3 linked regions of the Homo sapiens genome follow. The gene in region 1 interacts genetically with each later gene. Each region holds a gene or a part of one and is shown on either strand. Other genes may lie near its edges. The genes, in order: MTA1, INTS9 and MCM2.

Region 1 (3,649 bases):
TGTGCCCCATACCTGACTCCACCGCTGACCAACTGCACAGGCCTTGAGGCTCTTTTTTTTTTTTTTTTTTTTTGTGAGACGAAGTCTCGCTCTGTCACCCAGGCTGGAGTGCAGTGGCGTGATCTCGGCTCACTGCAACATCCATGGGCTCATTTTTAAGGTATGCTTGGTACCAGGAGCCGCTGCCGCTGCCCTGGTTTCCTCCCCTGTGACGACGCTGCTGTGAGGACAGCCTGGCAGGGCACGGACGGGAAGGGACGCGTGGTCCCCTCCATGCCCCAGGGGTCCCCCAACCGCACAGATCTGCAGACCCTCCTCCTAATGGCACCCACAGAGCTCAGGCCCTGACCGTGAAAGGGCTCTGGGGGCAGGCGGGCACTCGAGCTCCTCAGGCCACCGGGCAGAGAAAGCAGCAAAGCCCACGCCAGGCCGGATCACGGGGCTGCAGTGCTGAGGCCCGCCCCAGGGAGGCTGCCGGGCGGCTCTGAGGAGCGGTCACCTCAGACCCCTCAGGTGCGCTGCATGGCCCAGGCGGGAGCAGCCTAGAGGGTGGTGCAAAGCCCATAGAAGCAAGCCTTGGGGCCTGGGCTCGGGGGTGCCGGGGGCACATTGGTGGGGCGGGTGGGGTATAGGGGCGAGGTGCTGGGTGGCCTTGCACTATGAGGGTGGCCCCAGCCTCCCTGGGCTTGGCTCCATCGCCACCAAGATCCCCCAGTCCGCACACTCAGACATGAGCCCACCGGGACAGGAATGGAGCAGGCCAGCTGGGGTGGGGGTGGGGGTGGAGACACCAGCAACACGAGAGCCCCAGAAAGCAGTGAGCCCAGGTAGCACACGAGGAAAGACATTTGGAGAATATTAAATGCTCTGCCGGGCATGGTAGTTCACAGCCTTGCAAACCCAGCGGCACTTTGGGAGCCCAAGGCAAGAGGATCGCTTGAGGACGGGAGTTCGAGACCAGCCTGGGCAACATAGTGAGACTCCGCCTCTATAAAAAATCTTAAAATTAGCTGGGTATGGTGGTGTGCACCTGTGGTCTCAGCTACTCAGGAAGCTGAGATGGGAGGATCGCCTGAGCCTGTGGGGTGGAGGCTGCAGTAGCTGTGATGGTGCCACTGCACTCCAGCCTGGGCAACAGGAGACCCTGTCTCAAAAAAAACATAATTACATGCTCCCAAGACAGCCTGCTGGAGTCTAAGGTAGGGTCTAAGCTGCCCCCCAACCAGGTCTCAGGGTGGGCTCCTCCTGGGGAAGGGGGGCCACCCTCCCTAGCAGGACTCAGCCCATAATCTGGCAAGAGCACTCCAAGTTCAGCAGGAGGAGGAAGGAGGCCCTGCAGCCAGTGCTCCCCCAAGCCGCCTCCCGGGTACCTGGCCAGGCACACGGCACCTCCTCTGGCATCCCAGCCTCACCTGCTGACCAGCGTCCAGATGCGCAGCTGGGGACCCACCTCTAGGTAGGATGCCTGCAGGGCCACTGCAGCAGTTTTGACACCCAGAACCCACACACACGGGCGGGAACGGCACTGCCAGGGCGGGTCGGGCGCGAGGGATGTGCTTCATTGGACCATATATTCCAACATCTCTCACTGACAGCTACTTTTTTATTATTCTGAGAGCTTAACGATCAAATTCTCCACTCAGAACAATATGGGGCCAGGCACCGTGGCTCACGCCTGTAATCCCAGCACTTTGGGAGGCCGAGGCGGGTGGATCACTTGAGGTCAGGAGTTCGAGACCAGCCTGGCCTAGATGGTGAAACCCTGTCTCTACTAAAAACACAAAAACTAGCCAGGTGTGGTGGTGCACACCTGTAATCCCAGCTACTCAGGGGGCTGAGGCAGGCAAATCACTAGAACCCAGGAGGCGGAGGTTGCAGTGAGCCGCGATTGTGCCACTGCACTCCAGCCTGGGTGACAGAGTGAGACTGTCTCAAAAACAAAAAAAAAAGCCAGACGCAGTGGCTCACGCCTGTAATCCCAATACTTTGAGAGGCTGAGGCGGGTGGGTCACAAGGTCAGGAGATCGAGACCATACTGGCTAACACAGTGAAACCCCGTCTCTACAAAAAAAAAAAAATTACAAAACATTAGCCAGGCATGGTGGCGGGCGCCTGTAGTCCCAGCTACTTGGGAGGCTGAGGCAGGAGAATGGTGTGAACCCGGGAGGCGGACTTGCAGTGAGCCCAGATTGCGCTACTGCACTCCAGCCTGGGGGACAGAGCGAGACTCCGTCTCAAAAAAACAAAGGTGGAGCAAGCCAGGAGTGCTCAGTGGCTGAGGCAGGAGAAGCTCAGTGGCCCATCCTGCCTGGAGAGTGAGCCAGGGCTGCCAATGGCGCAGTGCTGAGGCCGATCCTCACAGGCCAAGTGGGACAGCCCCATGCCATCCCCTCCAGGACATCACACCTGGGCCCCTGCCACTTCTACCACTCCCGCTCCTGGTGCTCACAGGACGGCCGTGTCTCCAGGGCTCTTCCCTGCCTTCTTGGAAAAGATGGGTGGGACCCCAAAAGTCGGCCCATGGAGCAGCAAGTGCCTAGGGACACGGTGCACTCAGCACTCCAGGGTAGGGCGGCGCTGGCTGCAGCCCTCTACAAATCTGACATTTTTTTTAAGTTTACTTTTTTCCCCACTGGCAAGTATATAGAGCAATAAAGTTTAAACTTCAAAAAAACACTAGAATAAAAATACAAAAGCAACATTTCTAACAGCGCGCCAGAGCGCAGATGATGGCACATGCCAAGCCCAGTGAAGACCAGCAGCACGGACAGGGTGCTTCCGCCCAGGCTGCGCCAGAGACCGGGGCAGAGCCCGCGGCCCTGCAGGGGCAGGGGCTTTCTGGCATCCTTTCAAACTACATTAAAATTTTTTTTTTTTGATACGGAGTCTCACTCTGTCACCCAGCCTCAACTTTTATTAAAATTAAAACAAAAAGGCCGGGCATGAGCTCACGCCTGTAATCCCAGCACTTTCGGAGGCCGAAGCGGGTGGATCACTTGAGGTCAGGAGTTCCAGACCAGCCTGACCAACATGGAGAAACGCCGTCTCTACTAAAAATGTAAAACTTAACCAGGCCTGGTGGCGCCTGGCTAGTCCCAGCTACTTGGGAGGCTGAGGCAGGAAATCGCTTGGGCCGGGGAGGCGGAGGTTGCAGTGAGCCGAAATCGCGCCTCTGCACTCCAGCTTGGGCCACAGAGCAAGACTCCATCTCAAAAAAAAAAAAAAAAAAAAAATTAAACAAAAAAAATCCAAAAGATGGGGTGTTAACCTCTTGCAATGAAAAACAGAAACACCCAAGGCAAAATGGTAATGGCCTGTCCACTGAAAAGCAGAAGCCCCACATGAGCAAGCTGCAGGCGGCTGGCAGGCACCGATTCCTGCTGTCCTGTTTTGGATGCTATCTAACATCTTCATGTTCAACCCAGAGAAGAAACATCCCGCCGTTGCCCTGGGGCCCTCTCATCCCACAGCAGGTTTCAAGCCTTCCCCAGCCCTCGGGATGGACAACCCTTGAGAAGCAGAGGTCAGGGAACCCTGACCCCGCCACCCTTGCCCAGGCCATCCGCTGCCCTCACAGGCACAGACAGAAGGCCTCTGTCCGTGGCCAGGGCACTCCATGGGGAAGAAACAGGCCCTGTTCCCTCCCTGC
Region 2 (3,649 bases), on another chromosome or scaffold:
AAGGGCTAATATCCAGAATCTACAATGAACTCAAACAAGTTTACAAGAAAAAAACAAACAACCCCATCAAAAAGTGGGCAAAGGACATGAACAGACACTTCTCAAAAGAAGACATTTATGCAGCCAAAAAACACATGAAAAAATGCTCACCATCACTGGCCATCAGAGAAATGCAAATGAAAACCACAATGAGATACCACCTTACACCAGTTAGAATGGCAATCATTAAAAAGTCAGGAAACAACAGGTGCTGGAGAGGATGTGGAGAAATAGGAACACTTTTACACTGTTGGTGGGACTGTAAACTAGTTCAACCATTGTGGAAGTCAGTGTGGCGATTCCTCAGGGATCTAGAACTAGAAATACCATTTGACCCAGCCATCCCATTACTGGGTATATACCCAAAGGACTATAAGTCATGCTGCTATAAAGACACATGCACACGTATGTTTATTGCGGCACTATTCACAATAGCAAAGACTTGGAACCAACCCAAATGTCCAACAATGATAGACTGGATTAAGAAAATGTGGCACATATACACCATGGAATACTATGCAGCCATAAAAAATGATGAGTTCATGTCCTTTGTAGGGACATGGACGAAATTGGAAATCATCATTCACAGTAAACTATCGCAAGAACAAAAAAACCAAACACCGCATATTCTCACTCATAGGTGGGAATTGAACAATGAGAACATATGGACACAGGAAGGGGAACATCACACTCTGGGGACTGTTGTGGGTGGGGGGAGGGGGGAGGGACAGCTTTAGGGGACATACCTAATGCTAAATGACGAGTTAATGGGTGCAGCACACCAGCATGGCACATGTATACATATGTAACTAACCTGCACATTGTGCACATGTACCCTAAAACTTAAAGTATAATAATAATAAAATTTTTAAAAAAGGAAAAAAAAAAGAAAGTCAGTTTTGCTAGATATATAGTCCTTGGCATGCATTTTCTTTCTTTGAGTATCTTAAATATGTTCTCATATTTTTTTCTAATATTAAACATTGCTATTAAAAACACTGATAAAATCTAATTTTCTTTCCTTGTAAGTCACTTGTTCTTTTCCTAGATCCCAAAGGTTTGCTTGTAGTCTAAATATTTTCCAGAATATGTCTGTTGTTCATTGTTCTGGGTCAGTATTCTCAAGTGTACACTGTGTTCTTTTAGTGTGTAGTTTCGTGTCTCTTCATTTTAGCAATTATAGTATTTAGTAATTGAATATTATGAGTGTTAATTATTATTCTCACTTGGTTTTCTGTGATGCCACATAAGATTCCCTTATGTGGCATCTTGCTTATCTGTCTTCAACATTTGTTAGGTTCTTTTGAATTGTTTAAATCTCTTCATTTCTTTTTGGTATTTTTTATTAATCTACTCTTGTGTTTCTATTACAGGTTGAGTGTCCCTTATGTGAAATACTTGGGACCAAAGTGTTTCAGACTTCAGACTTTTTCCGATTTTGGAATATTGCTGATTGAGCATCCCAAATCCAAAATCCAAAGTAATCCAGTGAGCATTTCCTTTAAGCGTCATGTTTGCCTCAAAAAGCTGCAGATTTTAGACCATTTCTGACTTCAGGTTTTCAGATTTGGGATGGTCAACATGTAGTTTAGTCTTCATTTCCAAAATGATGTTTTCTTTTATTTCTAATTCTTTATTGAGTTTTGTCACCTCATTTATAAGCTTTGCTGGTTTTTCATGTATGTACCTCTTTCACGTTTGTATAACTTTTAAATCTTTTTAGCTTATTTGAAATTCTGGTGTATTGTTGGCATGCTTTCACTCTCTATATGACATTGTATTTCTAATTTGTAACAGCTCTTTTTATTCTCTTAATCTTTTATTTTGTAGCAATCTCTTCTCATTTCTTAGCTATACTATCTTATTTTTCTAACGATAGTAAGGACAAGCTGTTCTTAAAGTTTTCTTCTACCTGCCTAATTTATTTCTTCTAATTTCCCTGCCTGCTCCTCTGCCCCCACTTGAGGCCTTTATTATTTTAGAGACTTTTCTCAAATTTATGGTAGTCCTTGGCTATTGGCTCATGTTTAAGAGTTGAACGATTAAAAAAACTAATTAGAAAGTCTATGTGCCATGGGTAGGACTTGTTCACTTCCACACTTTACCATAAAGTAATCTGATTGAGCTGTTTCTTTGTGGAATCCTCTGCGTTAGAATCTTTTCATTAATTTTTTTTCTTTGAGGCTGATCGGATTCTTCAGAGAAGATTCTTTCAGCCCCCTACCCTGAGGGGAATAAGCTTACTCATAGTGCTTTGGCAGCCAAATGAGGAGAGGAACATTGTTCCTCTGTAAATTTTTGTTTAGGAAGGCTGTCTCAGTTGATGGTTTCCCGTAGTCCAGACTTTCATTTTTACTCCCTCCAGAGAACAACCTCTGGTAGCATACCTGAGAGGAGAAGGGACATCTGCTGAGCTATATGGAAGGAATGAGGAGATCTGGAAGGTTCTAAGTATCTCGTCTCTTTTTTCAACAGTTCCTCTTGTTTTTAGGTTGATTCAACTTCCTGATACACCTGTTGTTTTCAGTTGCCATATTTTTTGTGGGTTCTGCAGTAGAAATTAAACGTTTGCATTGAACTTTCCTGGGCCTATGAAGTCAGTTATCATTTGTCTGTCTACTTTCTAAAATGCCTTGCTATTGTCTCTTCTCTCATTCTCTTTGTCTTAAGGGTGTGTGTGTGAGAGTGTGTGTGTGTGTGTGTGTGTGTGTGTGTGTGTGTGTGTGTGTGTGTGTGAGAAGCCCTGTTCAGTGTTGTTTCAGGAGAGAGAGGAGAGGCTAATGGCATGCATTCATTTCACCCCAGTACTTGGACCTGTATTGTACAGTGAATGTCAGGGAAGTTACTCTTCAGGTCTCCTGATTCTTTTGGAGCAAATGATAAAACGTTTTTCTGTTGACACATTTTGGGCGACATAGCAAGACCATGTCTCTATTTTTTTTTTTTTTTTAAAAAAAGAAATGGCTGAGCACGGTGGCTCATGCCTGTAATCCCAGCACTTTGGGAGGCCGAGTTGGGCCTATCACAAGGTCAGGAGATTGAGACCATCATGGCCAACATGGTGAAACCCCATCTCTACTAAAAATACAAAAATTAGCCGGGCATGGTGGTGGGCGCCTGTAATCCCAGCTACTTAGGAGGCTGAGGCAGGAGATTCGCTTGAACCCGGGAGGTGGAGGTTGCAGTGAGCCGAGATGGCGCCATAGCACTCCAGCCTGGTGACACAGTGAGACTCTGTCTCAAAAAAAGTAAAAATAAAAACAGAGAAATGGTCATAAAGGAATCCTATGAACAATTATATGCCAGTAAATTAAACCATTTGGATCAAATGGACAAATTACTAGAAAGGAATGCTGTAGAACATGAAGAAATGTTCACCTGGTAGTTGACATTGTGATCCATTTGCAGGCTGTTACCTTCTCCTCTCAAGGATGCAGTGGAAGTCTCAACCTGGAGAAGATGCTATACAATGCAAGAGGTGAACTCTGCCCTTAGTAAAATCCAGCTGGTGGGATATTCTCAGAAAATTGTGAGTATTCATATTACATTTCAGTTATTCATGAATGCTTTCCATTCATATTGTTGTTTGTTGTTTGGAAGAATCCTATAG
Region 3 (3,649 bases), on another chromosome or scaffold:
GTGGCTTTGGGGAGGTCAGTGGCTGGAGAAGGGCTGAGTGTGCCCTACAAGGGTGACACTCTTTCAACAAGACTGACTACACTGACCATGTGCCAGGCAGTTCTGGGTGTGGGTGGCAAACCAGACAATGGGACAGAGTCCCCACAGGGCTCATCTCCACAAGGGGACAGGAGACAAATAGTCTTAAAAATTAATTATGGAAAGTAATGCTCAGAAGAAAAATAGAGTGATAGGATCAAGGGACCAAGGAGATGCCTCTAGCTAAGGGTGCCCGGCAAAGCCCCTCCCTGAAAGACAGGGAGCTGAGATGACGACAATGAGATGCAAGTCATGTGACAGTGTGGGAGAGCGTCTGCCAGGAGCAAGGAGCACAATCAAGCCCCAAGGCTCGGCCCTTTTGAGAGAGAAGGGCAGGTGCAGGTGCAGGTGAGGGAAGGGAGCGAGGAGGAGGTAGCTGCAGAGATGGCGGGTGCGGGCCGGAGGGGAGGACCCTGGATTCTATTCTGATGACAGCAGAAAGCCTCAAGCAGTTGTTAAGGACGGGGCTGATCTGATTTATGCCTTCAACTGGAAGACAGTCTACATGGGTGCCAGGAGGCCAGTTCAGATGATGGTAGTGCCTCAAGTCAGAGGCAGAAGTGAGGGAGGTGGGTAGGCTCAGGAGTTGGGACAACAGGATTTGGTGGATTGTGGGTTATGTAGGGTGGGGGTCGGGGGTGCTGTGAAGGAAAGAGAAATCAGGGCGACTTCTGGACATGAGAAGAGACCGAGGGAACAGGACTAGAAAACAGCCTATGGCCCCTGCAGCACCTGTCCCCTGTGTTGGGCACACTGTATGACCCCAAGCCTCACCTGAGGTCCCCAAACCACAGTTCATGGAAACCGGGCACATGTGAGCTATACCTGGACTGGGTCCACGGTGTCCCTCACCACACACAGGATGTCAAAGCGTGAGATGATGGGCTCTGTGAGGTCCACGTTCTCAGAGAAAGTCAGCGAGGGGTCGTAGCGCCCTCCTGAAACACAGGGGAGCACCTCCATCAGGGTGGATTCCCCTATCCTCCCATCTCAGGGACCCCAGGCTGCTCTGATGGCAGAAGGGGATGAGGGCAGTGGAAGAGGAAGACATAGGTGGGTACTTAGCACCTGCTGTCTGAGACAGCAAAGAGCTTACCCTAACCAGGGCCCAAAATAGCCTAATTTAGACAGAAAGCATAACTGCTTCCCCAGGAGGAAAAACCAAGAACACAGTGGGTGACAGAGCCTGGGTTCTTTTACGCATTCGCTGCTGAGACCAACAGCCAACTCCATCCTGGCCAGAGGGGCACTGGGCTCTCCTCCCATGCCTTCTGAGAACATCCAAGGTGATTCCAGGAACATGACTCAACAGGAAACCCAGGTGTCCCAGGTCCCACTTTCACTGTTCCCCACTCTGGCAGGATATGCAGAAGAGGGGAACCCTCTGCTGCACAATGACTTCCTCAGATCGGCTCCTGGGGACCCCGTGGGCTCCCAATTCAAGCAGGCGGGACCTCCCTGTGTCCCACCCCAGCCCCAGCAGTCAGGGTGCCTGCTGCACCTATGGGGTTGGCGGCAGCAATGACCGTGCAGCGAGCCTGCAGGGAGGTGACGATGCCAGCCTTCGAGATGGAGATGCTCTGTTGCTCCATGGCCTCATGGATGCTGGTTCTGTCCTGGTCATTCATCTGCAAGATTAAAATGGCCCACCCTTAGCATGGTTCACGCCCCTACTACTAAGTCTCCGATGAGGTCCCAATGGACCCCATTAACACCATTCCCGTCGCTAAGGCCCAAGCCCACACACACCCCCTGAGTTCCACCAGCCTCCGTGACCCAGGGACCCACCTTGTCAAATTCATCAATGAGACACACTCCTCGGTCAGCCAGAACCAGGGCCCCAGCCTCCAAGGTCCACTCCCTGCTGACAGGGTGCCGCTGGACATACGCCGTGAGGCCCACAGCCGACGCCCCCTGGCCAGTGGTGAAGATGGCTCGGCTGGACACTTTCTCAATATACTTGAGAAACTGCGACTTCGCTGTGCCAGGGTCTCCGCACAAGAGCACGTTGATATCACCACGTACCTTGTGCTTGCCACCTGGAGGGGATGAGTAGAAGCGGGGGAGGGGGAGAGTGGGAAGTGAGAGGAGGAGGGCACAGTTGCATCCCCCACCAATTCCTCAACCTACTTGTTAGGAATGGTAAGGCACAGTCCCTCTAGAAAGGGATACAATGCCCTACGCCATGCAGTCCCACTCTGGGCACTCCCAGGGAAACACACACGGGTGCAGAGGAGGGTTGCACGAGATGTCCTTGGCGAATGTGAAATATCAGAAACAATCTAAGTGTTCTCCAAAGGGAGAGCTAAATAAACTGCGTTATCTGGTGGCATGATAGTCATTTAAAAGAAGGCAATTGCTCTGTATGCACTAACAAGAAAAGATGCTGCAGTGTGGCACTGAGCGGGAGAGCTCGGTGGGATGCACTGCGCACAGGCACAGCACTGGGCACACACAGGGGACGCTGCGCTTGTACAAATAAACACGTGTAGTCATGAAACCCTGTGGTTGCTGTGTAATTGTAAATGGCCACAAAGGGAGGGACTAGGAAGAGAAGTGGGGGTCAATGGGGAAATCAGCCTCACCCATGACTTTTAGTGTTCTATAAAAGTGTAATATAAATACAAACTCATGTGTCAATAGTATTTTTGTACTTAAAACAGGTTTTTAAAAGACAAAGTATTTTTTACATAGAAGAGAAGCAAAGACTCATTTGCTTAAATCACAAAAGCAGGCAGACACTGGCTCCCTGACCAACAGCCCAACACCCAGAATGCCCAACTCAGGGCCACCCTCTCCCTTGAAGAATGAGTCACGCCCAGCCAGACCATCTTTTAATGCATTCTTTCTCCCCAGCACCCAGGCTTTAAAAACACTGTGTCCTTCTTTGAATGCTGGCTCCCCAAAGAGAAAGCTGCTAACACCCCTGCAGAGGAAAGGTGGGTGCTCACCTGGGTTTTTGGGCTCCCCTCCGAACAGGGCCAGAGCCAGGCCTCTCTTGATGTCTTCATGACCATAGATGGAAGGAGCAATGCTGGCAAAGATCTGAGAAAGGGAGGGAGACCGACAAGAATGGGAACAGATACTCACAGAGTAGGTCACCCACATGCTCTGGCATCAGGGAACCACGACATCCCCAGCTCAAAGACACCCACTTCCACAGCTGCTGCAACTGCATCAGGCCCTGGTATCAAGCCGTGCCCGACTCTAAAGCTTTTCATTAGTTGGCTCTTCCCAAGAGTCACAGAACTTTGGAGTTTAGAAGAACCTTCATCTGAACCCCTAATCTTGACATATTTCAGAAAGGCCTTTCCCAAGATCACAGACCAAGAGCAGAAATAAGACCAGAACCAGGTCTGTCATGGCACTGGCCTACCTCAAGCCTCAGTTTCTTCATATGGAAAAGAGAGATGGCAACATCCAACTCACAGAAGGGTGGGTACAAATGCGACAGTTCATGCAAGTGCCTGCCTCGTCAATGCAATAAATGTGGCACATCTGGGAGATGTGTCCACCAGGAAGTAATTCCAACTAGTGAGTCACTGGAACATTTCTATTTCAGTGTGTGTGT

The links.
Region 2: changes in MTA1 (region 1) and INTS9 together harm fitness more than expected from each alone (negative genetic interaction), as found in Homo sapiens cells (one large-scale study listed by BioGRID).
Region 3: changes in MTA1 (region 1) and MCM2 together harm fitness more than expected from each alone (negative genetic interaction), as found in Homo sapiens cells (one large-scale study listed by BioGRID).

The regions. Positions count from the first base shown.
Region 1 is NC_000014.9:105,422,800-105,426,448, reverse strand, and holds part of MTA1 (metastasis-associated protein MTA1), read right to left. Parts: intron 1-3,649. UniProt on the Homo sapiens protein: Transcriptional coregulator which can act as both a transcriptional corepressor and coactivator. Acts as a component of the histone deacetylase NuRD complex which participates in the remodeling of chromatin.
Region 2 is NC_000008.11:28,813,411-28,817,059, reverse strand, and holds part of INTS9 (integrator complex subunit 9), read left to right. Parts: intron 1-3,447; coding exon 3,448-3,568; intron 3,569-3,649. UniProt on the Homo sapiens protein: Component of the integrator complex, a multiprotein complex that terminates RNA polymerase II (Pol II) transcription in the promoter-proximal region of genes.
Region 3 is NC_000003.12:127,615,336-127,618,984, reverse strand, and holds part of MCM2 (DNA replication licensing factor MCM2), read right to left. Parts: intron 3,124-3,649; coding exon 3,030-3,123; intron 2,118-3,029; coding exon 1,867-2,117; intron 1,707-1,866; coding exon 1,580-1,706; intron 1,017-1,579; coding exon 904-1,016; intron 1-903. UniProt on the Homo sapiens protein: Acts as a component of the MCM2-7 complex (MCM complex) which is the replicative helicase essential for 'once per cell cycle' DNA replication initiation and elongation in eukaryotic cells.